Linked DNA regions of Homo sapiens. The protein of the gene in region 4 interacts with the protein of the main gene of each other region in a pairwise test. Each region holds a gene or a part of one and is shown on either strand. Other genes may lie near its edges.

Region 1 (7,672 bases), on a different chromosome or scaffold from region 4:
TGAGAGATGAGCCAGAACTAAGGGGAAAGGGCAGCAAGATATAATGACCAAAAATACAGGCTCCAGAATGGAGACCCAGACCCGGCTCCACCACCTGAGCTGCATGACTTCGGGCAAGTATCCATGGAGAGGAACAAACGTAGTAACATGTGGGCACAGGCAGTTAGCACAGGGCATCCCAGCACAAGGCTGACGCACAGTAAATGGTTGTTGCTATTATTATCTTTATTGTTGTTAAGGGGCTGTCCTGCTCAGATCCTGGGCTGGAGAAGCACAGCCCTGGAGGGAACGGGAAAAGCAGCCCAAGAAATTCCCCTTCCCCCAACCACGCGCTCTGGCCTGTTTCCACAGGATGAGCCCACACATAGCATATGGGGAAACTGCGACCCCAGGATAGGGGACTCGCCCTCTCAGCACTTTCCTTCCCTAATAGAGAATACACTATCATGGCTCCCAACACCAAGACAAGCTGAGGCCTCCCCCTAACCCTGACAGCCCCACCAAGCCAAATGCCAGGGTGGTCCAACGCCCTGCCCACGTGCACACTTTGTCACTGGAGAGTGAACACTCCTCTAAAAAGCAGTGGTTTTAGCTTCCAATCCCTGCATAGCCCAAACTCTGTGCGATGTGAACCAGCCACTTCCCCTCTGTGCAGTTGGCCTGGGGACATTTGGGGGTCCTGGGGTGGTCAGAAGAGAGAATAGGCTCCAGGAGTGGCATGGGGTCCCCTCTTCTCCAGAGTGGTCTGGAATATGGGTCCACGCCAGCACCTCCAACTGTGGGGTACTTCCGTCAGCCTGTCCGTGAGTGGGTGTGTCCCCAGCATGTGCATGTTGGGCTAAGTGTGTGGCGTGTGATGCTGCCTGCATGTGAGCTGGGTGCAGTGGTGACGTAGGCACCTTCCCTGTGATGGGACACAGCCTCCCCTTCACTCCTCCCAACAAACCACAGTCTCTGACTCTCTCACTGCCCACAGCCATGCCCAGCCACAAGGCAAACCAGGCATCCCAACTGGGCACACACTGTTCACACCCTATCTGGGGATGGGTGTACCCCACAGCCTCCAACCCCCACTCCACCGCCCCCAGCACAACCAAGGCAAATCAACACATAGACCTTCCAGCACACACCCAGACGAAACCCAGCATGGCTCAGACCCTTAACCCTCACTCCGCAACTCTCTGGCCAGAAAGCGGAAGTGGCCACCAAGATCCAACCTGCAATCCTTGCCTCCCGCCTTCTAGTTCATCCCCTGCCCTGTCTCAGGACCCCCTTCGGCCCACCATCACACCTCATTCGAGGGCCCTGAACCCCATCGGTGGGCCGCAAGTCATATTCAATCTAGAAAAGCCTCTTCGGTTTTTGAGGCCCACCTTGGCCCCAGGGTCTGTGCCCTCCCTGCCCCCCCAGCCCGTGCCCGCCTCTGGCTGCCCATGACCTCTGTCCCTACCAGGCTCCGCCCTCGGTTGGCACCGCCCTCGGTGCCTCCCACAAGCCGCCCCCTCGGTCGCCCCGCAACCTGGCGTGGGCCGCGGCCCCAACGCCCTCACCGCCTTTTTCTTCTTGCGGCTCTGCAGGCGGCTGACCACCAGGTCGGTGTAGAGCACGGGCTTGAGGCTGCGCGAGCGCTGCGGCCAGCCGTAGCACAGGGTCTCCGCGCCGCGGTGGGTGCGCCCGTAGCGCACGGAGCACAGCGAGCGCGAGCGCAGCCGCCCGGCGCTGCTGTGGATGCTGTTGACGCCGATCATGCTGGCCCGGCCGGCGCGCCGCGGCCCCCGGCCATGCCCCCGTCCGCCCTCGGCCCCCGGGCCGCCCGGACGGCCCGCGGACCGCTCCCCCGACAGCCAGCGCGAGCGGCGCGGCCCGGCCCGAGCCGGCCCGGCTCTCACGGACGCACGGAGTGCGCGGCGGCGGCGGCGGCGCTGTCTGCTCTGCGGCTTGGCTAGAGCGGGAGGGGGGCGCCGACGGGAAAGGGAGGGCGAGGGCTGGGGGCGGGGACCGCATGAAATGGAGGCGCCCGATCGCGAAGGGGGCCCTCCCCGCGCGGCCACGGGGAGGAGCCTGGGGAGGCCAGCGTGGGTGGCAGCTCCAGGGAGGCTGAGAGCACCGCTAGGCCTGGGGCTGTGACGCTGGGCGGACCCGGCAGGGTCTGGAACTCCCTTCTGGCTGGTCTGGGTTGGGGTGGTGGGAGGGGAGAGGTCGGACCGCTTCCCTGCAGCCCTTTTCCACTGAGCCAAGAGGGGCCTCGAGGGAGGACGGAGGCAGGGAAGGAACAGCCCTGGCCTCATCCAGCTCACCCGCAGATACCCCACCCATATATAGATCTGAAGTCACGTAACACACCTCGATTCTGACATACACCCCAACAAACCAGACGCACCAGTTCACGGTCACCCCAACTCGCAGACACTACCCATTCAGATGGACACTTCAAAACTTAGAATCTTTAGCTCACAAAGATACACCCCCTACTCAGAGGCATATGGCATACCTCAGACACGGCCAATTCGAAGATGTAAACCCCACCACACATAAACATCCAGCCTACACCCCAACTCAAACACACACTCTGAATCGTAAGCCCTAAAGCACAAACACACCAAGCCATACAAACCCTTGATTCACGACGCCCGGGCACACAGATGCAACTCAACTCAAGCAACACCCCAGCTCACCATGGACGTTCCCTCTCAGATATACCCCAAACTCAGAAGCCCAGCACCCCAAGCTCACAGAAACGCCCTAGGACAATCCTGTGCTGTTACATGTATGTAGTGGAGCAGAGACACCTTTGTCCTAGCCTGGGGGTTTCTTCAAGTGAGTCCAGGCCTCTCTAGATAAACTACCACCAGATCAGGGAGAGGAGTGAACCCACTGGATGAGCCACTCCCTTCTCCTACCGGCACCAGCCCCTACGTATCTGAGCCCTCGGTTGCGGGCCATGGAGCTGGCGCCTGGGAACGGGACCTGCTCACAGGGAGCCAGAAAGCAGTTTCTAGCTCCAGCTTTGCGCTAACTCGCTGCCAGACCTTGGAAAAGCTTAGTCCCTCTCAGGCCCCTCTCCCTCCGGGTTCCTGCAGCGCAGCAGCACCGGGAAGGTCTTTTTGGCTGTCCACGCGGCGGGGGAGCAGTGTGGAGTGTACCCCCATCCAATCCCTGTCCCGTGCAGGGACCCCCGCAACTCCCGCCTTCCACCCCAGCGCACACTGGAGGAGGGGAACTGAAGGCAAACGCAGGGGCCGGGGCCGCCTGCTCGCGTTTTCCAGAGCCGGGTCCCCTCCCCCGCCGTGCGCAGTCGCGACCGCACGCATGTGCGCATGTTCCGGGAGAGCCTGCGCGTGGGGCCTGGGGAGGGGGCGGTCCCCAGGCTGAGTCACGAGAGCCCGGGCTTCCGTGGCAGGAGCCGGGGGTCGGCAAGCCCCAGCCCTGCCCTCCCTCCGACTCTGGACTCCGTCGCCGACTGGGTCCTCCATCCTTCCCCTCCAGCGACTTCTACCCTGCCCCGCCCCCCACCTTGAGCAGCTCCCTAGGGAAGTCGCCGCCATCATTGAGGCCCTCCAGGTTCCCGATGAAGTCCCCGCAGGTCATGCGCTTCCCGATGTTCTAAGGAAGGGAACGGAGGCCTGTGAGTTTGGAGGGCCCTTGGCCTCCCAGGTCCTGCATGTCTGGCCAGGGGTTTGTTTTCCGGCTCCTGCCCGCCCGCCTCCACTCACATGGCCGTGGAGATCCGTGTTGAGCAGCATGAGCGCACAGGTCAGCGTGTGGGCGCCGTCTAGGGGAGAGCTGACTTTCAGCCTTGGCTGCCTCCCAGGGACCCTTCCCACAGCCATCTTCCCCAACCTCCCATTTCATCCCCACCCCCTTTGGCCGGCAACTTCCTACCTCCTGAACCCCGCTAGTAAACCCTCCCCACAAAGAGCTCCTCTTCCAGCAGATCCGTCAGCAAGGACCCGTCCCTGGCTCCCTCAAGTACTGAGGGCTAGTTGCCCCAACGTACTAGTTGCCCCAACGTTCCCTTGCCTCTAAGCCTGGACCACGAGAAAGTGAACCGCAGCACAGTCCTGTAGACCAGTGCAGCCAAACAGAATCCCCTCTCCAGCCAAGCACTGGCCTGCACAGGCATGCAAACTCCTGCCTCTTCACAACACACTCAACCCTAGCAATATGCCTGCCCACATGTATAGTTCCACATACATGCAGCCATGACAGCGCTGTCTGCACACATGCAAGTTCACATGCCTACACGCATGTACATCCATTCCCTGCTGTACACACACTCATGCTCCTGTACACACACACAGGGCCCAGCCCATTTTGCCACTGTGGCCAGCTAAGGACACCCCTGCTCTCGGAACTCCTCACCCTCTGAGGACAGGGCTTCAGGATTGCACTGGAAGTATCGCTGGGAGAAGTGGGCCAGCACGCGCTCTCGTTCCTGGGTCTCACCCATTAAGGCCAGCTCCTTCAGAAACACCCTGGAGAAGGGGCAAGAGAGGGTTGCCTAGCAACCAGGAGTTTCCAGCCTCTGTCTCTGGGGTGACAGGAGGCTTTGAGAGTACAGCAGCTGGGGTGGGAAGGGGAGGAGAGAAAGGGGATGAGGGTATGCACCCTGACCCTCCACCCATCACCCCTACCCAAGGTCCCTTTACCAGGCAGCTCTGGCCCTTGGCCATGCCCAGCCATCTTGGGAAGGGTGATGTCAGGACGGCTTGTGGGGGACAGAGGGGCTCAAAGGAGGCATCCTGGGGCCCTAACACGAACCCCGGAGAGTGGGGGCTGTCCTCCAAGGGGTCAACACCCACCTGAGAGCTTGGTCCAGAGTCATGCCCGTGAAGACAAAGAACTTGAGGTACTCCCCAGCCACCAGTTTGCTGAAGTCATTGCTGTGGGCAGGGCAGAGAGACAGGTAGGGTCTCAAGGGGAAGTGCAGGGGGTCAGGTGGGGATTACCCAATGACCAGGGGACATTAGATGGAGAGCTGCCTTCAGGATGCATTCCCTCTGCCCCCATCCTCAGTCCCAGCCTAGTGGCTTTACTTCTTGCCCAGGTGCCGGGCCACATCGGCCTTCCTGAAGCCATCTAGTCGGTACAGCCTCTTGGCCAGGCGCTGCGCAGCCTCCAGGTCCGCTTTCTGCCCATTGGACAAGGTGTCTGTGCTTCCCAGGGCCAGCCGCTCTGTGCTGTCCAGCTCTGAGTCTGAGTCGGACACCAGCTGGCTCAGGGGTGGTTCGCTGCCGGGGTAGAACACCAGCTCAGGCTGGGGCAGGGTCCTTAGGAGCCATCCAGACCCTCCTTCTGCCTCCAGGCCCAGAAGATGGAGAAGGGGAGGGAGTGGAGGGACATGGGGAAAGCATTCTTCTTTTTTCCAGGGAAGGAGATTAGATTCTCTCCATCAGCCTACTCCATCATTACCACCTCTCTGTGGAAGTCCTGCCTCAAATCTAACCCACATCCGTCTTGCTGCTGTGGGAGTTCTGGCTGCTTCCTCAAGCTCCCAGGGGCCTACATTTGCTATTAGACATAGATTATCTGTTCCCACCCTGGCCCTACACAGAACATAGTCCTTTGTCTCTTAGACTATGGACAAAGCTGGAATAGATGGGCTACCACGGAGGAACTGTGGAGGGCCAGGGAAAGATTTGAGGGCAGCAGGGATACTGGTCCGAAGGCTTTCCCCCTCCTGCTTTTTAGGGAGAGGAACCTCTCCTTGGTGCTCCCCCTCTGCCCACACAGAAGCAGGCTCTGGAGTTAGGGGGTTAAGGGTCGGGGTGCATACCCTCATTCCCTTTCTTTCCTCCCCTTCCCACCCCAGCTGCTCTACTCGCAAAGCCACCTGTCAGCCCAGAGACAGAGGCCGGAAACTCCTGGTTGCTAGGCAACCCGGTCTCCCTGGCCACCCCCTCCTGTTGCCATGGCTTCCATGACTGAGAGGGTAGCTGGCAGAGGGGAGAGCAGAAAGGTTAGACTGTGAAAGGACTTCCTGGAGCTGGACGAGAGATGCCTGATTAGGCAGGGGTGACATGGGAGGGAGGCAGTGGGAGAGGCTGGTGGCTGCATCTTTGGTGAAGCCTTCAGGCTGGGTGAGGGTAAGGTCACAAGAATTCTGAGCAGGCTAAAGACTCTGCCAAGGGAAGAAAGGGCCCTCCAGGAGAGCAAGAAGGGTATTCTCCTGGGATCCTTCAATGCTGAATCATGCTTTCTCAAGCCACTGGACTTGAGACCAAGAGGGGTGCTGTGAGGGACTCTCCCTCACAGCTAATGGCAGTAGTCCTCCAAATAGGAAAACAGGATCTGCATCCCTTAACCACCCCTACTCAGGGGTCAGGAATATAAACCAATCCTCACACTCAGGATCTGTCCCTTACAGCAGCTGTTTCTGGAGCCCTGGGGGCCTCAAGTCTGAGGGACAAAAGGAATTACTTACCTGCCAAGGGGTGCTGCCCCCAGCCCAAGGCTGTCCTCTGAGTGGCAGGGACTAGGGGGCTCCCTCCCTGGGGCCAGCTTGGCTCTGGCCTCTGCCTCCTCCTCCTCCCCTCTCTGTGTCCAAGGACCATCAGCAGCAGAGCTGGTACCAGAATCCGGTTCAAGAGGGGCAAGTGGGGCGGGAGCTGGTGGGTCGGGCCGGGGTGCAGGGGGTTGGGGAGGCAGCTCAAAGGTGAAGAAGGGGCTCTGGGTTGGGCCAGGTGAGGCCAAGGCCTCCAGCGAGGCGAGGCTGGTATAGGAGGTGCCTTTGGCCCGGTGTGACTCCAGGATGGCTTCGAACACACAACTGAAAGAGTCAGGCCCATCAGCCGAGGGGCTCGTCCCAGGTAGAAAGGGCACAGGTGACTTGAGAGGCATCCGGCTCCCTGGCCTGCAGGGGCAGGGAGAATCTCTGATTAGGGGCCCAGATCACAGGGCTGGGGCAGGATTTCACTGAACTCTCACACTGACTCTGCTAAGGGGATTATCATCCCCTTTTCACTGGCTCCAGCCCACTAACAAAAAAGAGCCTCTAGGGTAGGGCGCCAAGCTATTCAGTGCCCCCTGGGGCACACCAGCCCTACCAGTCCCCAGCACCCCATCCCCTCCCTCCCTGCTAATCTCCCTTTCTCCTCCTTTTCCGTGATCCGCTTCCCTTCTGCCATCCCATTTCTATTTCTAGCAACATCTTAGGAGAAGATGAGGCTCCAAGCGACACTGGGGTGTGAGACGGAAAGGAATGTCCCCACACTCCCCACTCTCCCACCAGGATCCAGGATCCAGACTCATGCTCCTGTGTTCCTGGGCTTGACTGTGGCCTCTGGCCTCTCACCCTGCCCCCTGTTCTGCTAGAACCCCTGGCCTCTTTGCTCCCCACATCCCCAGTGTTCTGCCAAGCCTCAGGCCTCTGTCTAGAATCTCCTGCTATACACACTGCCCCGCCAGCCCCACACCCATCTCTATCCCAGGCCCTTTGAGCCCGGCTCTGCCTGTGGGCCAGTGCGAAGGAGCAAGCCGCTTCCCTCTCCCACTTCCCCCTCCCACTTCCCCACTCACCGGGCCCCTTCAGAGGCCTCAAACACCTCGTCGTCCACATCTTCTTCCCCACCTGCCTCATCGTCGTCCTCATCCTCATTGCCACTGCCGAGGCTGGGATGAGGGCCAGGGAGTGGGCCGGGCCGTGGGGCAGGTGGGTAGGCAGTGCCTGGTG
Region 2 (7,672 bases), on a different chromosome or scaffold from region 4:
TCCTTCAGAGGGAAGAGGACACGTAAAGCCCAGAAGTCTGAAAAAGGGTGTTTCCAGGAATAAAATGTGGCTGAATGTAACTGAGAGAGACAATTCATGGGAGTGGTAGGGAGCAGAGGCTTGGCCTTGAAGAGCTCCGAATGCCTGGCCCAGAAGTGTCAACTTCAATCCTGTAAGTGGTACAAAATATTTAAAAGGATATTGAATTTTTTCAGTTCCTCTTCCCCTGATTGTAAAAGTAATACATGTTCATTGTAAAAAGTAAAACATCAGAGAAATAAGAAATAACATAGAAATCAAAGTCTCCCATAATCCAGTCCCTCTGAAATATTCACTGTTAACAGTTGGATACACACACACACACACACACACACACACTCACACAGTCCCCGACTTATGAGGTTCCACTTAATGATTTTTTTACTTTATGATGATTTGAGATTGATATACATTCAGTAGAAACTATACTTAAGAGTACCCATACAACAATTGTTTTTCATTTTCAGTACAATATTCAATACATCACATGAGATATTCAATACTTCATTATAAAATAGGCTTTGTGTTAGATGATTTTTGCCTAACTGTAGGCTAATGTAAGTTCTGAGCACACTTAAGGCAGGCTAGGTTAAGCTAGGATATTCAGTAGGTTAGGTATATTAAATGCATTTTTGATTTTCAATCTTTTCAATTTAAAATGGGTTTATCAAGACACAACTCCATCATAAGTCAAGGTGCATCTGCATACACAAACTCTCTCTCTCTCTCTCTATTTTGCACAGACAGAATCATTACACAGACTCTTTTGCAATTTGCTTCTTTTCCATTTAACTCTTTACATCATATCAGATCAGAGTGATTAACAGCAAAGGATGTCTGGGTTTAAACCCTGGCTATACCACTTACTGGCTGTGTGACCCGAGGCAGGATTTCTTAGTCTCTCTGTGCCTCAATTTTCTCATTTGTACAATGGGAATAATAACAGTACCTACCTTGTAGGGTTATTGGGAGGATTAAATCAGTCAATGCACATAAAGTACTTAGAACACTGCCTGGCACATAGTAAGTACTTAATAAGTGTTAGATAGCTAGCTTTATCCATGTCAGCAATTAGGAAGTGAGGTCATTCATTGAGAATAAGGAGAGGAGAGTAGCAGAGGCTTGGAATAACACTAGGGGGAATGGGAGAGGGAGCAAATCAAGAGCAAGTAAAAGGATTGTTAAGCAGCGCTGAGAGCGAAAAATAAGGACTGCAGTGCCAACAGCCCACATTGTGTACTCTGCCCATGGCAGCGCTCAGCCCCCAGTTCTAGGGGTGGAGGAGGCAGACAATTGTAGAATTGAATCAGAGTCTGGGAGTTGTAGGGCAAGTGGGACAGAAAGGGAGCTGAGAGTGCTATGGAAAAGTAGTTCAAGCTGTGGATGGACCATGGGTAAGGGATGTAGGTGCAGCTAGAAAGGGGCTGATGAACTGGGAAGAAACCAAAGGGTCAAGATTGCAGAGGTCTCCTTGAGACCAAAGAGAAGGTGTAGTGGGAGAGAGAAAGTTAGGAAACTGGAAGGGTAGGAGGTTGAGGTCACAGAGTAAGATGGTAGACGGTCTGGAAGAAGGCCACAGTTTGGAAAAAGGCCCTGGCTCAGAGGTGGAAAGAAGCTGGACACCAAGTGGAAGATATGAGTGAAGATAGTGAGGATGGGGGCAAGGCCTGGAAGCCTCTTCTGGTCTTGAAATAATTGTTCTTTCTTATAGAGGCGACCCTTCTGGGGGGCCAAACCGCTGGCAGGCCCTGATCAGAAAGAGGCTGAGAGTCAGACGGTACCAGCATTAGAAGAGCTATTGGAGGAAGCTGCAGCCCTCAACCTTTCCATCATGTTCGACTTGCGCCGACCCCCACAGAACCACACATACTATGACACTTTTGTGATCCAGACATTGGAGACTGTGCTGAATGCAAGGGTGCCCCAAGCCATGGTGATGTTGCCAGGACCCCCTCTCCCCACCCTGCCTTCCCTAGGCCATGATGATGAGGATGATTTTGAGGCTGCCCCTACCCCCAGGGCCCTGCCCCAGCTCACATACCCCATTCTGTGGTCAAAACTGTTTGCCCCTGTCCCTGCCCTTGGAATCCCTAGGTCTTCCCCAGCTTCACACCCATCCTTCCTGAACCACAGGTCTTTTGGCTACCAGATGAAGATCGGGCTAATGTCCAACGACGGGCACCTGGAATGCGCCAGATATATGGACGTCAGGGAGGCAACAGAACGGAGAGGCCCCAGTTTCTTAACCTCCCCTATCAAGATCTGCCACTATTGGATATCAAGTGAGTGCTAGAGGAAAGGAACCAAGGGGATCACATGAGGCTTAATGGCAGGGAAGAACCAGTTCAGGGAGAGCAAAGCCTCTTGATTCATTCACTCACACAAAAAGTATTTACAGAACACTTGCCATGTATCAGGTAGTATTGCAGGCTTTGGGGAAACAACACAGATAAGACAGACAAGGTTCCTGCTTTTGTGGAATACATGTACTACTGAAGAAAACAGAATAAACCACTTAACAAAATACATGCATATTGAAAAGTGAAAAAGTGTTATGAAGACAAAACAGAGAGATGTAGAAGAGTGGTTAGGTTTGGGAGTGATGGGCTGGGGCAGGGAGGTGGGTGCACCCACATTAGGAAGGCTGGTTAAAGAGGTGATATCTAAGCTGAGACCTGAATGGTCACAGGGAGCTAACTATGAGCTGCAGAACAGGAACAGCAGTCTAATGAGCAAGGGGAAGGGGAAGCTAGAGAAGCAGGCAGGGGCCAAATTGGGTAGGACCTTGTAGGCCACGGGAAGGATTTTATTCCACAACAGACATCAGGGTAAGAGAGCGTGAATCAGGGAGAGTCCCAGATGTGAGCTGAGCCCCAGAAGCTGACCCAGCTGAACCATGACAGACTTCAAAGCATCTGGTTGCTAAAGCCTCTTATAAGGTCCTTGTGTTCAGATAGAAAAATGTGAACTGAATGATAGCCCAGTTATCATACATATTTCTTTTTTTAATTTGAATTTTAATTAAAAAAATTTTTTTTAGAGATAGAGTCTCACTCTGTCACCAAGCCTGTAGTGCAGTGGCCTGATCAGAGCTCACTGCAGCTTTGAACTCCTGGGCTCAAGTGATCCTGAGTAGCTAGGACTATAGGCACACACCACTATGCAAGGCTATTTTTTTTTTTTTTTTTTTAGAGACAGGTTCCTACTACCTGCCCAGGCTGGTCTCAAACTACTGGCCTCAAGCAATCTTCCTGCCTCGGCCTCCCAAAGTGCTGGGATTACAGGCCTGAGCCACTGCCCCCCTCAGCCTCCCGGTTATAAGCATGAGCTATCTCACCTAGCTATGTAAGTATTTATTTCCCCGAGTTATCACCAAAGAGGAAGACATGACATAGGGTTTGGTTCTCACCTTAGTCTTGTCCTGGTCAATATCAGCTGCTAATCAACTGCTGATCATGTTTCCAAAAGATGTGAATTGGTATTGAATACACTGATGATGGAATCGAGGCCCTGAAAGGTCTAGGTGCTGTAAAAAGATAGGCCAAATCTAGCAAGATGAAATGCACCAGGGATAGATGGAAAGACCTCTATTTGGGGCCCAAAAGAATTTCAGTTGCACAAAGACCAGAGAGGAGACACTGGCATCAACAGGAACATGTGTGAAAAAGACCAGGGCTTTCATTGAACAGTATACCTAGTGAGTCATCAGTGGGATGTAACATTGCCGAAGGCTAACCTGACTCTGGACTACCTGAATACAGGCATAGTGCCCAGAGGACAGGAGGAGATAGTTTTGCTCTATTCAAAGGTGACCCAAGCTGGCTGGGCATGGTGGCTCCCACCTGTAATCCCAGCACTTTGGGAGGCCAAGGCAGGAGGTTCACTTGAGCCTAGGAGTTCAAGACTAGCCTGGGCAACATAGCAAAACCCCGTCTCTATAAAATAAAATAAAATAAAAACCAGCTGAACATGGTGGTGCCCACCTATAGTCCCAGCTACACTGGAGGCTGAGCCTAGGAGGTCAAGCTGCAGTGAGCCAAGACTGCCACTGCACTCCAGAGCAAGATCCTGTCTCAAAAAAAAAAAGGCTGGTCCAAGCCCATCTGGGATATTATTTTCAGAGACGGGCCCCATATTTTCAAAGGAACATTGATAAATTGGAATATATCATATTAGAGAGGCTTGTACAGGGAAGGAAATGATAAGAGTAATGGCTGAAGGAGCTGGGGCTGTGGGGCCTAGAGAAGAGAAGGCTCAGGGAGACAGGGCCTCTGCTCAGGACCCAGGGGAGAGACACATTGTGTGGCCCCAGATAGCAAAGCTAGGACCCATGGGTGGAATCCACCAGAAGACAGAGTTCAGCTATGAAAGGAAAATCATTGTTGGTCAGGGGCTGCTATGGAAAGGCAGAGCTGATACCTCCTTGGCAGTGGCACTGTAGATTCAAGCACAGGCAGGGGGCTGCCTCCCATGTCCTGTGCACCATGATTCTGGACATTCCCTATTTTCTTTCCCACCTTCACAGGGCATTGCATAAGGATAATGTCTCGGTGAACCTATTTGTAGTGAACAAGCCCTGGCTCTTCTCTCTGCTTTGGTGTGCAGGGGTGGATTCGGTCACCACCAACGACTGCCAGCTGCTGCAGCAGATGCGTTACCCTATCTGGCTTATTGTAAGGGCTCTGGGACTGTCACCTCTCCTCTTCTCCCATCCCTGGTTTTCCTTAACCCTGTCCCTCTCTTCCTTACTTATTTCCCCTGACATTCTACCCTTGGGGCCTTTTCCTATTTTCACAGACCCCTCAAACCTACCTAATCATATGGGTCATTACCAATTGTGTTTCCACCATGCTGCTTTTGTGGACCTTCCTCCTCCAAAGGTGAGTGCTTTGTGCCTCAGCTTTCTGGGTCCTTACTTTCTCCAGGGCCCTGGTGATGAGGCTGCTTCAGACTCACATATGCTGCCCAAGGCTTGGGGTCTCTTTAGTTCCTTTGAGATTCTTAGGCCCTTCCTTATACTATCAAATTGGCTTGAATGTAGGAAAGGCAGTTGGGGGGAGCAGGTGTGGGGGCTGGAAGGGCCTGCTTGAAGCTAGCTGAACTCATAATGGGAAGCTTTTCTCCCCACAGAAGATTTGTTAAGAAGAGAGGGAAAACTGGTAAGAACTTTCTCCCCTCACCTCATGTTTCTCCTCCTGTAGCTTTCCCCTTGCTTAACTCCCTAGATGACCCACCCTCCCCCTCCTCCCCAGGCTTAGAAACAGCAGTGCTGCTGACAAGGATCAACAATTTCATGATGGAGTGAATGCCCTGCCCTGCTTCCCCACCCAAGCCAGTCTACATTGCCCAAACAGCAAGGGTTGGAGAGTGGCTTAAGTGGAATGCTTCAGGGGTGGTGGGTTGCAAGTGGGGGGAGCTTTGCCAACAGGAGGTTTTGAACCATGAGGGCCCTCTGCCCAGGTGATGGGCATTCCCTAAGCTGCTATGGAATCTGCTCCCTTTGGGGTTTTGACCTGAGATGTTTGGGAAGAGAGTGAGTAATGAGAAGTTTCTCCTCAAATGAAACTAGAACAGAGGAAGTAAAAGGGAGATTGCTCGGATAATGTCTCAGACTTGTGTGCACGTGTTCTTGCATAGAAGGCACAGGGTGTGTCGGGGTGGGATAGCTTGGAAGAGGGACTGAAGGAGATAACGAAATGGTCTTTTCCGGAGAACTGTAAGATGATAGAGACACCATCGCCACTCCACGATGTACTGTCTTCCTCGACCCTTGCAGCTTAGCTGTTTTCCTGCCTAGAGGCTAGGAGCTGAAGAGCCCGTCTAGCCGTGTAATTCTGTGCTTACAGGTGGCTTTTTGCTGTGCGCAGCCTTTTCTTCAAGGCAGGTTGGTTCCTGTATCTTGTCTTAATCTGTTACTCAACGAATGTAATCTCCATTTGGTCACAGCCTAATCTTTTCGGCCCAGGGGCTGGGGAAAGGAGGCACCTTCCATCTACGGTTGGATGGGACACGACCTTGAGGGGCCATCAGGGGGAGATGGGAGGAGGTGGGTTGGAGGTGGGAGGAGAATCACCTGCGGCAATGAAGGACTCGCGGGAGGCTCGCGGGAGGCCCGCAGGAGAGCAGCCACCTCGGGGGCGTCCGGAGGCCGGGCGCGCGGTGCAGGGTTGCACTGTAGCTCCACCTTGTGGCCGCCCCAAGAGGAGGGCCGCATCCGTCGTCGCCGTGACGTATTTGCTGAATGCCACCTGTTTTCCGTGCCGCTTGGGGACTCGTGTCCTTGACTCAGGACTCCGAGGGCAAGGTCCGATTTCCACAAGTTTTCGCTCCTCTGGGCTGCGCGCAGGGTCCAATTTCCGGCCCAGCCTTCCCTTGGAGGAGCAAGTTCCCCAATGTGTTTGCGGCTCGGGAGTCCCTGGGCTCCGCAGCTAAGGTGGCCAGTGCGGAGCTGACGGAGGATGAAGAGTCTAGTAGAAGAAGGGAGGGGCTAAGCCAAAAATGGGGACAAGAGGGGCTCTGTGGTGACCCCACAGTCTTCCGCCACACCCACATTCGACCTAGTTCGTATCTCCACACGGAGGGAAGTAGAACTAAGGAGTCGGCCAGGTAGGGAGGTCGGGTTCTCGGTTCCTCCTCTCTCGCCAGACTGGGACCTGGGGCAGCACTGGCATCCTCGGGACAAGACCCGCCCCCCACCCTCGGTTGCCGGGCAGCCGCGGGAACTACAATTCCCAGTGAGTCCCCGGCCATTTCCGGTATCTGGCTGGACGCAGGCGAGTTTGAATCCGTGTTCCCGCCCCCTTCTCCCGGGCCCACCCCTTTCCTTTCTGGCCGCCCCGCCCTCTCCGTGCGCATCCCTGCACACTCCGGCTCCGGAGGCCGGCCGCGCCCACGTACCTGACCTGCAGCTGGCGCGGTGGGCGGGGGTGCCAGCATGCGACGCACGGGGAGGCTGGAGGCGCGCGGAGAGCGAACGCCGCAATCCGGTCCTGGTCCTGGTCTTCCTGGGAGTCCACGCCGCTGTGTACCGGGCAGGTCTCTCCTACACTCTGCCTTTTCGAGCAGCATTTCCTTACTTTTCCTGGTTCCCGATCCATCCCCTCTCTTTCAGGCTGGCTACCAGCCTTAGCTCTAGGGCCCCCAGTCTGCCCGGTACTGCCGGGCTGTCACCTCTCAGCACGTACCTCCTCCCCCATCCCTACTTTTCTGTCCCTTCCCAATCGCCCAGTCTCTTCCTCCCCTCACCTCCCAACCTCACCCTGAAGACCTCCAGCAACTCCATCCCTGCAGCCCCAACCTCTCAGCTCTCACACTCTCAGCTGCGGCCCTCTAAACCCAGCGTCTGGCCCCCCAACCCAGCGCCAGCCTCTGACCCCTTTCTCCTAGCCCCTAGCCTTGGGTACGCAGCCTTGAGCCTGCCACCGGAAATCCTCACTCTCTTCCCAGGAGAACTGGACAGCTAAAGCGGTTTAACCTATAGGCCCTGGGCCCTGGGCTGGAGACTGACACTGACAAAAACTTAAGGGCGGAGGACCCGGGGGAGCTGCTCATTGGGGTTCGGATGTAGTTGCTCTTCGTTATTTTTAGCTGCTGACTCACAGCTCCTGGCATCCGGGTTTGGGGCTAGCAGGCT
Region 3 (6,745 bases), on a different chromosome or scaffold from region 4:
CATGGTGAAACCCCATCTCCACTAAAAATACAAAAAATTAGCCGGGCATGGTAGTGGGCGCCTGTATTCCCAGCTACTCGGGAGGCTGAGGCAGGAGAATGGCGTGAACCCAGCAGGCAGAGCTTGCAGTGAGCCGAGATCGTGCCACTGCACTCCAGCCTGAGTGACAGAGCGAGACTCCGTCTCAAAAAAAAAAAAAGCCGGGCGCAGTGGGTCACACCTATAATCTCAGCACTTTTGGAGGCTGAGGCGGGCAGATCACAAGGTCAGAAGATTGAGACCATCCTGGCCAACATGGTGAAACCCCAAGCCTGTAGTCCCAGCTACTCAAGAGGCTGAGGCAAGAGAATTGCTTGAACCCGGGAGGCAGAGGTTGTAGTGAGCTGAGATTGCGCCACTGCACTCCAGCCTAGCAACAGAGCAAGACTCTGTCTCAAAAAAAAAAAAAAAAAAAAAAAGAAAGAAAAAGAAAAAGAAATCAAGTCAGTGGTTCTTGGATGAAGCTCAGAAATCTGGATTTTTTTCAAAAGTTCCTTGGACCACACTGATATGTGCCCTCTTAGTTGCCAGGTGTCAGGACAGTAGGCTGCAGCTTTCCTGTACTCCATTCATTCAACAAATATTTACTGAGGGTCTGCCATGTGCCAGGCACTGTTGTAGGTGCTGAAGATACAGCAGTGAACAGAACCTAAAGTCTCTGGCTCGTGGACCTTACATTCTAGTAGAGGGAGTCAGAGAGTGAACAGGTAAAGAAATATATTAACAGGACAATTTCAGATAGCTATATGTGCTATGATCACAAATAAGGGGACAGAACGGGAGAGAGAGGACTACTTTAGATTTGGGTTATCTTTTATCACAGCAGTGGGAAAAAAAACACAAGAAAATCGAGTTGGGAAGTCCTGGAAGGCTTCTGTGAGGAGGTGACATTCAAACTGATCACTGAAGTACATTAAAGACCGGAAGGAAGAGCATTCCAGGACAGGAGCAGTGGCTCATGCCTGTAATCCCAGCACTTTGGGAGGCCAAGGCCAGAGGATCGCTTGAGCCCAAGAGTTTGAGACTAGCCTGGGCAACATAGAGAGCTTTTTTGTAGAGACCTCATCTCTACAAAAAAGAATAAAATTAGCCGGGTATGTGCCTGTAGTTCCAGCTACTTGGGAGGATCTCTTGAGCACAAGAGGTCCAGGCTACAGTAGGCCATGGTCACACCACTACACTCCAGCCTGGATGACAGAGCAAGATCCCGTCTCCCACCAAAACAAAAGAGCATTCCTGGTAGACGGGACAGTAAGTGTAAGAGCTTCAGGCTACAGAAATTCCCAGAACAGGCCAGGCACAGTGGCTCACGCCTGTAATCCCAGCACTTTGGGAGGCCAAGGCGGGCAGATCACCTGAGGCCCAGAGTTCGAGACGAACCTGGCCAACATGGAGAAACCCCATCTCTACTAAAAATACAAAATTAGCTGGGCGTGGTGGCGCATGCCTGTAATCCCAGCTACTCAGGAGGCTGAGGCAGGAGAATTGCTTGAACTCTGGTAGGCGGAGGTTGCCGTGAGCCGAGATCGTGCCATTGCACTTGAGCCTGGGCAACCACAGTGAAACTCTGTCTCAAAAAAAAAAAGAAATTTTCAGAACAGAAGACCATGGTGACTGGAACAGGGAAGAGAATGGAGGTGGGATTGGAGAGGTGGGAGGGGCTGGGTCACCCAGGGCCACGTGGATTCTTTCTGGTGCTGACTGTGGGTTTTATTCTAGGTACGTTGGGAAGAGACATTGGATGGTTTTAAGCTGGAGAGTAACATGACCGTATTTATGTACAAAAAGCTCACTCTGGTTGCCTTGTGGAGAAGGGTTGGGAGACAGGGTCAAAGTAAGGCCAATGGGGGTGTTTCTTTTTTCCTTTTTTTTTTTTTGAGATGGGGTCTCACTCTGTCACCCAGGCTGGTGTGCGGTAGCTTGATCTCAGCTCACTGCAACCTCCGCCTCCCAGTTTCAAGCGATCCTCCCACCTCAGCCTCCCGAGTAGCTGGGACCACAGGTGTTCACCATCATGCCCAGCTAATTTTTGTATTTTTGGTAAAGATGGGGTTTCTCCACGTTTCTCAGGCTGGTCTGGAACTCCTGAGCTCAAGCAATCCGCCCGCCTCAGCCTCCCAATGTGCTAGGATTACGGGTGTAAGCCACTGCACCCAGCCTAATGGAAGTGTTTCTTCCACAAGGAAGGGTCTTCTGAGGTAAGATAATGAAAGAGCACCTCCACCCAGGTGTCCGAAGTGAAGGTGTTCATTTAGGACTTTCATTGGCTGTCTTGTTGCAAATCAGGCTTCCAGAAGGCATAAACTACTGGTTTCTTTCAGCGTCCTTCTACGGGAGCTTAGGACACCTAATTGGAGTTTGAGCCTAATAGAGCAAAAGTGAAATGTGTGTTCTGTGCATGAGCTAGCCTGAGGACATGTGGCTAGTGGCTAATGAGCGTGAGGCCACCCTTTCAGGGTCAGATAAACTTAATGAGCTACTAGAATCAATGAGTGAATGAATGAACGAATGAATGTGTTTTTTTGTTTTTGTTTTTGAGACGGAGTCTCAATCTGTCACCCAGGCTGGAGTGCAGTGGCACCATCTTGGCTCACTGCAAGCTCCGCCTCCCGGGTTTATGCCATTCTCCTGCCTCAGCCTCCCGAGGCAGCTGGGACTACAGGCGCCCGCCACCACACCCGGCTAATTTTTTGTATTTTTAGTAGAGACGGGGTTTCACCGTGTGAGCCAGGATGGTCTCGATCTCCTGACCTCATGATCTGCCTGCCTCCGTCTCCCAAAGTGCTGGGATTACAGGCATGAGCCACCGCACCCGGGTTTTTTGGGGTTTTTTTGCTTTTTCTTTTTCTTTTGAGATAGTGTCTTGCTCTGTCGCCCAGGCTGGAGTGCAGTGGCGCAATCTCGGCTCACTGCAACCTCTGCGTCCCGGGTTCAAGCGATTCTCCTGCCTCAGCTTCCTGAGTAGCTGGGATTACAGGTGTATGCCACCACGCCTGGTTAATTTTTTTTTTTTTTTAGAGATGGGGTCTCACTATGCTGCCCAGGCATGTCTGAGACTCCTGGGATCAAGTGATCCTCATCCTCTTGCCTCAGCTTCCCAAAATCATAGGATTACAGGCGTGAGCCACAATGCCTGGCCTGGACATATTTTTGAGTCAACAGCTGCAAGAGCTACTTAGAAATTTTACGGGGGTTGCTGTGCCCCTTGCTTTGTTCCTTCTGCTTACCCTGAACCCTCTCTCTCTCCACACCAGGTTCTTTTTTCGATCGGGGAAACAGACCTAGATCCAAGGCCACAAGTAAGGCTATGGCTCTGATTCTAGAAGACAACCTTCCAAGATGCCTGGCAAAACCACCTCCCTGTGCCACACAGACACACTAGGCCTGTGTATTTATTTCCCCTTCAAAGCAGACTGAGGAGGGAGGAGACGAGGTTCTCTTGGCATCACTTTCTCCCTGGCTGCAGAACTAGACACCCTTGAAGATTTGGCCTGGGCCAGTGAGACTGAAATCAAGAAAAACAGAAGGGATGTGCAGGGTGGGGGGGTCCACTTCCTGCTCCCATGTCAACCCCCAGGGCCTCCAGCGTGCAGACGCGTGTCCTACTCATCTGCTCCCACGGATGACCCTGGTCTTCAATGGTTAGCAGAAGGGAGAAAAGAAAGCAGGAAAATGTGCTATTGAGATTCCAGTGGTGACTTCACTGATATTTAGTGAATATTTGATTTAGCCAACATGCCTTTCTTTATGTGATTTTGTATTAAAGTAAAATGATTTTTATACTTTCTATAGCTTATCTAGAGTGGTCTCTTAGTTACGATGGTACACATGGTATATGTGTGTATATGTCATATATCTACATTTCATTGTATAATGAATCAATTGCATTCATTCAGTCTAAGCGATGCACGATTATCTGGTGTCACTATGAAGGGAAAGATTGCTGCAAACTAAAATGTTAAGAAGCTATCGATTTTAGGACTCATCCTGATTTCAGAGGTGTTAAGATGTGAACAAAATGCATTTAGGAATCAATGAAACAGAGAGCGGGTGTCTGCACTTCGCAAAGGAACTAATGAGGCTGCCGCAACCATTCCGTGAGCCTGTCTTCTTAGTAAATAACAGTGGCTTACTCAATGTGTTTCGCCTGCTCTGTGGATTATCTCATTTGTTCCTCATAACCTGGGGAGATGGGGACCGGTACCGGTGCACCAGTTTATAGATTTTTTTTTTTTTTTTTTTTGAGACGGAGTCTCTCGCTCTGTCGCACAGTCTGGAGTGCAGTGGCACGATCTCGGCTCACTACAAGCTCTGCTGCCTACGTTCACGCCATTCTCTTGCCTCAGCCTCCTGAGTAGCTGGGACTACAGGCACTTGCCACCACACTCGTCTAATTTTTTTGTATTTTTAGTAGAGACAGGGTTTCGCCGTGTTAGCCAGGATGGTCTCGATCTCCTGACCTCGTGATCCACCCGCCTCAGCCTCCCAAAGTGCTGGTGAGAGGTGACAGCGTGCTGGCAGTCCTCACAGCCCTCGCTCGCTCTCGGCGCCTCCTCTGCCTGGGCTCCCACTTTGGCGGCACTTGAGGAGCCCTTCAGCCCACCGCTGCACTGTGGGAGCCCCTTTCTGGGCTGGCCAAGGCCGGAGCCCGCTCCCTCAGCTTGCAGGGAGGTGTGGAGGGAGAGGCGCGAGCGGGAACCGGGGCTGCGCGGGGCGCTTGCGGGCCAGCTGGAGTTCCGGGTGGGCGTGGGCTTGGTGGGCCCCGCACTCGGAGCAGCTGGCGGGCCCTGCCGGCTCCGGGCAATGAGGGGCTTAGCACCCGGGCCAGCGGCTGCTGAGGGTGTGCTGGGTCCCCCAGCAGTGCCAGCCCACCGGCGCTGCGCTCGATTTCTCGCCGGGCCTTAGCTGCCTTCCCGTGGGGCAGGGCTCGGGACCTGCAGCCCGCCATGCCTGAGCCTCCCACCCCCTCCGTGGGCTCCTGTGCGGCCCAAGCCTCCTCCACGAGCCCCACCCCCTGCTCCATGGTGTCCAGTCCCATCAACGACCCAAGGGTTGAGGAGTGCAGGCACAGGGCACGGGACTGGCAGGCAGCTCCATCTGCAGCCCCGGTGCGGGATCCACTGGGTGAAGCCAGCTGGGCTCCTGAGTCTGCTGGGGACGTGGAGAACCTTTGTGTCTAGCTCAGGGATTGTAAATACACCAATCGGCACTCTGTATCTAGCTCAAGGTTTGTGAACACACCAATCAGCACCCTGTGTCTAGCTCAGGGTTTGTGAATGCACCAATCGACATTCTGTATCTAGCTACTCTGGTGGGGCCTTGGAGAACCTTTGTGTCCACACTCTGTATCTAGCTAATCTGGTGGGGACGTGGAGAACCTTTGTGTCTAGATCAGGGATTGTAAACGCACCAATCAGCGCCCTGTCAAAACAGACCACTTGGCTCTACCAATCAGCAGGATGTGGGTGGGGCCAGATAAGAGAATAAAAGCAGGCTGCCCCAGGCAGCAGTGGCAACCCGCTCGGGTTCCTTTCCGCATTGTGGAAGCTTTGTTCTTTTGTTCTTTGCAATAAATCTTACTACTGCTTACTCTTTGGGTCCACACTGCTTTTATGAGCTGTAATACTCACCCCGAAGGTCTGCAGCTTCACTCCTGAAGCTAGGGAGACCAGGAGCCCACCAGGAGGAACGAGCAACTCCAGACGCGCCGCCTTAAGAGCTGTAACACTCACCACGAAGGTCTGCAGCTTCACTCCTGAGCCAGCGAGATCACGAACCCACCAGAAGGAAGAAACTCCGAACACATCTGAACATCAGAAGGAACAAACTCTGGACACGCCACCTTTAAGAACTGTAACACTCACCGCGAGGGTCCGCGGCTTCATTCTTGAAGTCAGTGAGACCAAGAACCCACCAATTCCGGACACACTGGGATTACAGGCGTGAGCCACCGCACCCGGCTTTTTTTTGGGGGGTGGTGGGGACGGAGTCTTGCTCTATCGCCCAGGCTGGAGTGCAGTGGCACCATCTGGGTTCACTGCAATCTCTGCCTCCCAGATTCAAGCGATGCTCCTGCCTCAGCCTCCCGACTAGCTGGGACTATAGGTATATGCCACCACACTGGGTTAATTTTTGTATTTTTGTAGAGACGGGGTTTCACCATATTGGCCAGGCTGGTCTCGAACTCCTGACCTCATGATCCGCCCTCCTCGGCCTCCCAAAGTGCTGGGATTACAGGCGTGAGTCACCGTGCCCGGCCAGTTTATAGGTTTAGAAACTGAAACTCTGGCTGTGGAGCTAGGAAGCAGCTTGCCCAGGAGGCAAATGCAGGCCTGATTCCAAGGCCCGGGCGCGGAGCTGCCAAGCTTTATGGGTCCAGAGTCACTGGCAAGTCCTAATAATAGTAATAATTTACTGTATGCCTCGCCTGCATCATTCTAAGTACCTTTCCGATGCTGTCTCACATACTTTTGTGGGATGGGTATCACTATTGTCCTTGGGGTCCTCCCAAGGAGGTTAAGGCATAATGGGTGAAAAGTCTTGTCTAAGGTCCTCAGCTAGAAAGTGGTAGAAGCAGGACTTGAGCCCAGATACAAAGTCCACACACAGGCTTCAACCACTCTGCCTTCCAGGAAGAGCTGGTAGTGTTTAAGAGTCTAGTCCAGAACACTGTCTCAACAGCATCATTAGATCAGGGCTCCTAATC
Region 4 (7,672 bases):
TGTAAAAAATTGCCTGTGGAGCTCAGAAATGAATTATAAGGAAAAAACAATGTTTTTAATGAAGACTAAACTATAAGAAGTGTACAAGTGAGTAGACACCATGGAAAGTGCAGTATTTGGAAACAGATGACAGAAAAGAAAAAAGCAAACAGAGATGAAAAGGCGTTCTGACAAATTGAATATGGCAAAGAAGACTGAACTTACATACAGCTGATGAAGAGGCATTTTGACTTGGGCCAGGCGCGGTGGCTCATGCCTATAATCCCAGCACTTTGGGAGGCTGAGGAGGGTGGATCACCTGAGGTCAGGAGTTCGAGACCAGCCTGACCAACATGGTGAAACCCTGTCTCTATTAAAAATACAAAAATTAGCCAGGCGTGGTGTCAGGTGCCTGTAATCTCAGCTACTCGGGAGACTGAGGCAGGAGAATTGCTTGAACCCGGGAGGCGGAGGTTGTGGTGAGCTGAGATCGTGCCACTGCACTCCATCCTGGGGGACAAGAGCAAAACTCCATCTCAAAAAAAAAAAGAAAGGAAAGGCGTTCTGACAATTGAATATAGGCAAAGAAGATCCAACTTACACACAGCTGGAGTCCCTGTTTCCATCATCTGTTGCTGCGTGACAGATCTCCCCAAACTTGAGGTCCCCATTCATCACCCCTTGTGTTTCTGTGGGTTGGCTGCGTGATTCTGCTTTTCTGACCGAGGTGCCCTCAGGTGGTCACAGCCCCGTAACATCTAGAAACCTCTGATGGTCCGCGTGGCCTTCCATGTCCGGCAGTTCATCCCAACTGTCAGCTGGGGCTCCTTAGTTCTCCTGCATGTGTGTCATCCAGGAGGCCTAGCATGTGCCTGTAGTCCCAGCTCCTTGGAAGGCTGAGGCTGGAGGATCACTTGAGCCCAGGAGTTGGGTGCTGCAGCGAGCCATGATCATGCCAGCACGCTCCAGCCTGGGCAACAGAGTGAGACCCCATCTGTTAAAAAAAAGAGAGAGGCCGGGCACAGTGGCTCACACCTGTAATCCCAGCATTTTGGAAGGCCGAGGGGCAGATTACCTGAGGTCAGGAGTTCGAGACCAGCCTGGCCAACATGGTGAAACCCCGTCTCTACTAAAAATACAAAAATTAGCTGGGCATCGGGGCGGGCGCCTGTAATCCCAGCTACTCGGGAGGCTGGGGCAGGAGAATCGCTTGAACCCGGGAGGCAGAGGTTGCAACGAGCCAAGATCACGCCACTCCACTCCAGCCTGGGCGAGAGAGCGAGACTCCATCTCAAAAAAAAAAAAAAAAGAGAGAAAGACAAGGAAGTGGGGAGGAGAATAAGGGGGAAGGGACCCCATGAGTACAGACCAGGAACGAATGAGTTCTGCACCCCTCTCTCACCTCCCCCAGGTGCTGACCCCAACCCTTCAGAGCCCTGCTCCCCCTGCCCCGGCTCCTCCTGCCCCGTCCCCCATGCCTTGCCATTCTCCTTCAGCCTGGCTGCCCTGTCCCCCATGCCTTGCTGGTGCCCCTCAGCCTGGCTGCCTTGCTGGGCCGCCGTGCATGAAGAGCTGCTTCTTGGTGGCTCCCTGCTGGCCGGACCCGTCCCTCCCAAGCTGAGCCACCAGCGCGTTGAGTAGCAGCCCTGTTTCATAGCATATCTCCCCTTCTGTGCAAAATAGTCACTGGAACGGGGAGTTTCATTTGGCATAACGTAAAGTACACATTCCGGATTTAAGGTTCCCAGGAGAAATAGAAGTAGCAACTCCCACAGTCTCCACAGGCTGAAAGGGAAGGCGTCTCCCTGCTGTGGACTTGCCACATCGTGCTCCAGCAGCCACTTCTTCCTAACCCCTCCCTGTTTACCCCCCAGATTTTTCCTCTGTTCCGTGCGCTAGGTGCAAACGGCCTCCTCATTGAGTATGAAGACATGTTTCCCTACGAGGGCCCTCTGAGGCTGCTGAGGGCCAAGTACGCCTACAGGTAACACTGCCCGTGGCAGGTACAGGGGCGCGGCGTGAAAGCGGGGAAGGGGGGGTTCCGCAGGGCAGGAGGAGCAGCAACCTGGAGGTGCGGGTGGCACAGTCAGGAACTGAACAGTGGTGGGTACATTCCTTTTTTGTCTTTTTAAATTCATCTCTTTAATTGTATGAAAACAAAGTTTCATTTCAAACATTCACTGGAGAGAATTTTGAAACATTTAAAGGGAAAGTAAGCATCAGCAGCGCCCCCTACAGGGAAGAGCTGCAGTTCCTGTCTCTGTCCTGCAGGCGTTTCTTCTGTTGATGGGAGAAGGCTGGACTACAGAAGGTTAGAGAAGGTTAGAGAAGGTTAGAGAAGGCCAGAGAAGGAAGGCCAGAGAAGGCTGGGCTAGAGAAGGCTAGAGAAAGCTGGAGAAGGCTAGAGAAGGCTGGAGAAGGCTGGAGAAGGCTGGACTACAGAAGGTTAGAGAAGGCCAGAGAAGGCTGGGCTAGAGAAGGCCGGAGAAGGCTGGAGGAGGCTAGAGAAGGCTGGAGGAGGCTGGAGGAGGCCAGAGAAGGCTGGAGAAGGCTGGAGAAGGCTGGAGGAGGCTGGGCTAGAGAAGGCCGGAGGAGGCTGGAGGAGGCCAGAGAAGGCTGGAGAAGGCTGGAGGAGGCTAGAGAAGGCTGGAGGAGGCTGGAGGAGGCCGGAGAAGGCTGGAGGAGGCTGGAGGAGGCTGGGCTAGAGAAGGCCGGAGGAGGCTAGAGAAGGCTGGAGAAGGCTGGAGAAGGCTGGGCTAGAGGTTAGAGAAGGCTAGATAAGGTTAGAGAAGGCCAGAGAAGGCTGGGCTAGAGAAGGCTGGAGGAGGCCAGGGAAGGTCAGAGGAGGCTGGAGAAGGCTGGAGGAGGCTGTAGAAGGCTGAGCTAGAGAAGGCTGGAGGATGCTGGAGGAGGCCTCCGCGCAGGGAGGGGCTGCTCTTCAGGCCACAGTTGAGCCTTGAGTTAGAGAAGAGAAGAATTAAAGGGGAGAGAATCAAAATCAATAAAATCAGGTGTGGTGGAGATGGGAGGCCCCTGCTTAATGCTAAAATCACAGGTCTCTGTGAAAATCAATAACGGCCCCAAAGATAAATGCACAATGGACATTAACTGGCCAATCCCAAAGGAAGAAACAAAAAAGGCCAATAAGCATATAAGAAAATGTGAAGGCCAGGAGCAGTGGCTCACGCCTGTAATCCCAGCAATTTGGGAGGCCAAGGTGGGCAGATCACTGGAGCTCAGGAGTTTGAGACCAGCCTGGGTAACATGGTAAAACCCCATCTCTATGTGAAATACAAAAATTAGGCCGGGTGCAGTGGCTCACGCCTATAATCCCAGCACTTTGGGAGGCCGAGGTGGGTGGATCACTTGAGCTCAGGAGTTCGAGACCAGCCTGGGCAACATGGTGAAACCCCATCTCTACATAAAATGCAAAAAATAGCCATGGATAGTGGCATGGGGCTGTAGTCCAAGCTACTCAGGAGGCTGAGATAGGAGGATGGCTTGAGCCTGGTGTTAGGTTTTTTTAAAGGGAAGGCGAGGGTTAAAGAAAGACAGAGAGAGAGAGGGCGTCTCTACAGCAACAGAGGTATAGTGCAGAAACCTACAGAGGGGGGACCAGCTTAATGCCAGAGCCCACCGCCGCTTACAGGCTGGGGTACTTACAGGCCTGGACGGGAGGGGTTTGGGCAGTAGGGCTTCTGCCTGGGAAGATGTTGAGAGATGTTCCCATGATGAGGCAGTTGGGTCCTTGTTCCCAGCAGAATATGATCAGGATGTTCCTTCAGCTGGGCCTTTGCCCAGCAAGGTATGTTCGGGATGTTCCTGGGCCGTGTGGTCGGGTGGTCGGGATGTTCCTGGGCCGTGTGGTCAGGATGTTGGGCAGGATGTTCCTCACAGCCCAAACCCCGTGGAATGTTTCACTTCAACCTGGGTCTGGAAAACAGCAGGGGGCTTACAAAATGGTGCAGTTTGGATTAACACCCAGGACCCAGAGGCTGCAGTGAGCTGAGATGGCGCCACTGCACTCCAACCTGGGCAACAGAGCCAGAGCCTGTCTCAAAAGAAAAGGAAAGAAAGAAAGAAAATGTTAAACCCTCATAGTACTCAAATCAAAGAAACTAAATCAATAATGCAACACCATCCTGGCTACCAAACTGGTAAGCCTTTTTTAAAAATTATAAGACTTGGGCTGGGCGCTGTGGCTCACGCCTGTAATCCCAGCACTTTGGGAGGCTGAGGCAGGCGGATCATGAAGTCAGGAGTTTGAGACCAGCCTGACCAACATGGCAAAATCCTGTCTCTACCAAAAAAAATACAAAAATTAGCTGGGCGTGGCCAGGCGCGGTGGCTTAACGCCTGTAATCCCAGCACTTTGGGAGGCCGAGGCAGGCGGATCACAAGATCAGGAGATCGAGACCATCCTGGCTAACACAGGTGAAACCCCGTCTCTACTAAAAATATAAAAAATTAGCCAGGCATAGTGGTGGGCGCCTGTAGTCCCAGCTACTCGGGAGGCTGAGGCAGGAGAATGGCGGGAACCCAGGAGGCAGAGCTTGCAGTGAGCTGAGATTGCGCCACTGCGCTCCAGCCTGGGCGACAGAGCTAGACTCCGTCTCAAAAAAAAAAAAAAAAAATTAGCTGGGTGTGGTGGTGCGCACCTGTAATCCCAGCTACTCAGGAGGCTGAGGAAGGAGAATTGCATGAACTCAGGAGGCAGAAGTTGCAGTGAGCCGAGATCGCGCCACTGCACTCCAGCCTGGGTGACAGAGCAAGACTCTGTCTCAAAATAATAATAAATAAAATAAATGAAAAATTGTAAAGACTGTGTTGATGAGAATGAGAAAGAGGAAAACTACCTGCTGATGAACATAATATGACATCTGTTCTGGAAGGACTTCGGTTCCATGTGTCAAAACTCCAAAATGCCTGCACCCCATGCAGCCCACATGTGGTTAGACCAGAAGTGATGAACGGTGAGCCAGGGTGTTGGCCTGCAATGAGATAATCAGGTGCGATGAGATGATCAGGTGCGATGAGATGATCAAGTGCGATGACATGATCAGGGGTTTGCATTTTCTTCATACTCTTCTAGTTTTCTTCCTACAGTGAAGACATTTTGTCTTTTGATGTGAAAAAGTAAAGTACCAGGGTTCCTTCGAAGCTTGAAACAGGAATGTTTAAAGACTTTATGTAACTCATAAATCTATAGAACGGATTAGCCTAAGATGGTTCAAACACATACAAAAACTAGAAATAGCTTTTTTTTAGATAAATTCATAAATGACAGCTCATGTAAAGCTTGTGAAAAACGAAGAGGTCGACCCGGGGCAGTCAGCCCTTCCCAGGATGTGGCCCTTCTGCAGAGGACGGGCGCCCCAGGATTGTTTCAGGTTGAGGACCCTGTGGTGGACCTGCCCTCGGGCAGCTGCTGACCCGGCTCTGGATGGAGTGTGGCACCTTCTGTAGCATTTTTATTTTTTTTTGAGACAGAGTCTTGTTCTGTCTCCCAGGCTGGAGTGCAGTGGTGCGATCTTGGCTCACCGCGAACTCTGCCTCCCGGGTTCAAGTGATTCTCCTGCCTCAGCCTCCCGAGTAGCTGGGATTACAGGTACATACCACCAGGCCTGGCTAATTTTTGTATTTTTAGTAGATACGGGGTTTCATCATGTTGGCCAGGCTGGTCTCGAACTCCTGACCTCAAGTGGTCTGCTGGCCTTGGACTCCCAAAGTGCTGAGATTACAGGCGTGAGCCACTGTGCCTGGCCTTGAGTAGTTTCTTGTAAAATGTGATGACTTCATTCTCTTGTCGTGGGTTGAAAAGCGAACCATTACTTGAGGACGTGCTAGAACATCATCTTCCCAAATTTTGGAGCAGGTACCTTTCCAGAAATCAGGATACCTGTCAAGCTTTGTGGAGTTTAGGGCCTTACTGTTTCCCGGAGAGCCCCCCAGGGCCTGATGAGGAAGGGCTGGGGGGGTGGGTGTGGAAGTCACGTGCTGCTCACATGACCCTCTCTCTATGAATTTTGTCTCTCCAGCCCCTCTGAAATCAAAGAGATCTTGCATCTGGCTGGACTCAATGAGCTGGAGGTGATTCCCTTGGTGCAGACATTTGGACACATGGAGGTGAGTGGCAGAAATGGAAGTTACCTGGTGCCAGGTGTGGGGTCCAGGGGCTGCAGGCTGGGCCAGGCTTGTGCCCAGGGGTGGGTGCAGCGGGCCCATGGTTGGGGTGCAGGCAGCGCAGCTCAGCACAACATGGAAAGGCCTTTGGTCTAGGAAGTCCCTGCCTGACTCGGCCAGAGCTGCAGGTTGGGGCTGCCTGTCTGCCTGAGGAATGGAAGGAAAGAGCCAGAAAAGGGGTCCTGGAGGCAGTTTCCTTTTTCACTTGTATTCATCAGAATATTATTATGTGAGGTAAAACACAGTATTAGGGAAAGAAAAGGTGCTTTTCAGGCCAGGTGCGGTGGCTCACACCAGTAGTAATCCCAGCACTTTGGGAGGCCGAGGCTGGTGGATCACCTGAGGTCAGGAGTTCGAGACCAGCCTGACCAACATGGCGAAACCCCGTCTCTACTAAAAATACAAAAATTAGCCAGGCATGGTGGCGGGCACCTGTAGTCCCAGCTGCTCGGGAGGCTGGGGCAGGAGAATCACTTGAACGCAGGAGGCAGAGGTTGCCATGAGCCAAGATCGCACCACTGCACTCCAGCCTGGGTGACAGAGCAAGACTCCGTCTCAAAAAATATATATATACACATATTCTTTTTCCTGTCTGCATCAAACAGGAAGTGATGCGGCATTAACCACCACACCGATTTAATGGCTCTTAGGTTCCATTTATTTCTCTAACAGATACACCATTCTGGCTTCTATTTCCACACACCGCGGGTAAGAAGGTTGTTTTCACTTACACATGTCGGTGTTCTGGGCGTGCCACCGGAGTTCCTTCCCACAGCTCGGTCCTCCAGCCTTTCTAGTTGATTCTCTCCATCGTACTCTGCTCTGGGACCCGGCCTGCGCTCTTAGCCTCCTGCCACGTATCCACAGAATGTCTCTGCCAAGGCCGCCAGGGTCCTCCAGGTCACTAAGTCCAGGGACGGTTTTAGTCCTTTCCTGCTGGGCCCCTCGGTAGCTTCTGGCATCCCCAGCCGCTCTCCTGAGCCCCACACTTTCTGGCTTCCCTCTGCCTCTGACTGCACCTCCTCGATATCCATTTGCATTTGTCTCTCTGTAGCTGGCGGTCCCCAGGGCTCCTCTCGGTCCCTGTCCCCACCTCCCACTCTCTCTCTAGATGGTGCCATTTCTGCTCCTGCTTTCTCTTTGTCCTCCTCTTCGTCTTCCTCTTCCTCTTCTGTCTGCACCTCAGCAACTCCAGACCTCCTGGGTTACAGACCCTCATCCCCAGCTGCCTGCTGGTCGCTTCCATTGAGGGCCCTCCTCCAGCCTCTGGTGTGCAAACCAGAAGCAGACCAGCCACAGTCAGCACCACCACCCGCCACGCCCTGACCCATGTTGGTCCTGCTGCTGCTCCTCCTCCTCTTCCTCTGTCATGCAGGCACCACCCCTGTCTAAACCACTATGGACTCACCATGAAACTTTCCTAATGGGTCTCCCGGGGCCACTCTGCCCCTCCGTGCCCCTCTCCCCACCACAGCAAGTCACAGCACAGCCCTGACCACTCACACTCGCC

Evidence for each region.
Region 1: the proteins of HEXD (region 4) and PSD interact in a two-hybrid assay, tested with the Homo sapiens proteins (one large-scale study listed by BioGRID and IntAct).
Region 2: the proteins of HEXD (region 4) and GDPD2 interact in a two-hybrid assay, tested with the Homo sapiens proteins (one large-scale study listed by BioGRID and IntAct).
Region 3: the proteins of HEXD (region 4) and RILPL2 interact in a two-hybrid assay, tested with the Homo sapiens proteins (one large-scale study listed by BioGRID and IntAct).

What each region holds. Positions count from the first base shown.
Region 1 is NC_000010.11:102,407,345-102,415,016, forward strand, and holds part of PSD (PH and SEC7 domain-containing protein 1), read right to left. Parts: coding exon 7,519-7,672; intron 6,854-7,518; coding exon 6,425-6,853; intron 5,232-6,424; coding exon 5,037-5,231; intron 4,884-5,036; coding exon 4,803-4,883; intron 4,476-4,802; coding exon 4,363-4,475; intron 3,773-4,362; coding exon 3,714-3,772; intron 3,604-3,713; coding exon 3,514-3,603; intron 1,934-3,513; exon of another isoform or gene 1,551-1,933; intron 1-1,550. UniProt on the Homo sapiens protein: Guanine nucleotide exchange factor for ARF6. Induces cytoskeletal remodeling.
Region 2 is NC_000023.11:70,427,743-70,435,414, forward strand, and holds the end of GDPD2 (glycerophosphoinositol inositolphosphodiesterase GDPD2), read left to right. Parts: exon of another isoform or gene 1-170; intron 171-1,750; coding exon 1,751-1,972; intron 1,973-2,172; coding exon 2,173-2,321; intron 2,322-3,231; coding exon of another isoform or gene 3,232-3,384; intron 3,385-4,564; coding exon 4,565-4,712; intron 4,713-4,836; coding exon 4,837-4,919; intron 4,920-5,169; coding exon 5,170-5,198; intron 5,199-5,291; coding exon 5,292-5,344; 3' UTR 5,345-5,639; downstream 5,640-7,672. UniProt on the Homo sapiens protein: Has glycerophosphoinositol inositolphosphodiesterase activity and specifically hydrolyzes glycerophosphoinositol, with no activity for other substrates such as glycerophosphoinositol 4-phosphate, glycerophosphocholine, glycerophosphoethanolamine, and glycerophosphoserine.
Region 3 is NC_000012.12:123,412,470-123,419,214, reverse strand, and holds the end of RILPL2 (RILP-like protein 2), read left to right. Parts: intron 1-3,293; coding exon 3,294-3,324; 3' UTR 3,325-4,176; downstream 4,177-6,745. UniProt on the Homo sapiens protein: Involved in cell shape and neuronal morphogenesis, positively regulating the establishment and maintenance of dendritic spines. Plays a role in cellular protein transport, including protein transport away from primary cilia.
Region 4 is NC_000017.11:82,422,541-82,430,212, forward strand, and holds part of HEXD (hexosaminidase D), read left to right. Parts: intron 1-1,853; coding exon 1,854-1,963; intron 1,964-2,784; exon of another isoform or gene 2,785-4,064; intron 4,065-4,835; exon of another isoform or gene 4,836-4,970; intron 4,971-5,489; exon of another isoform or gene 5,490-5,587; intron 5,588-5,712; exon of another isoform or gene 5,713-5,768; coding exon of another isoform or gene 5,769-5,854; intron 5,855-6,017; coding exon 6,018-6,105; intron 6,106-6,893; exon of another isoform or gene 6,894-7,672. UniProt on the Homo sapiens protein: Has hexosaminidase activity. Responsible for the cleavage of the monosaccharides N-acetylglucosamine (GlcNAc) and N-acetylgalactosamine (GalNAc) from cellular substrates. Has a preference for galactosaminide over glucosaminide substrates.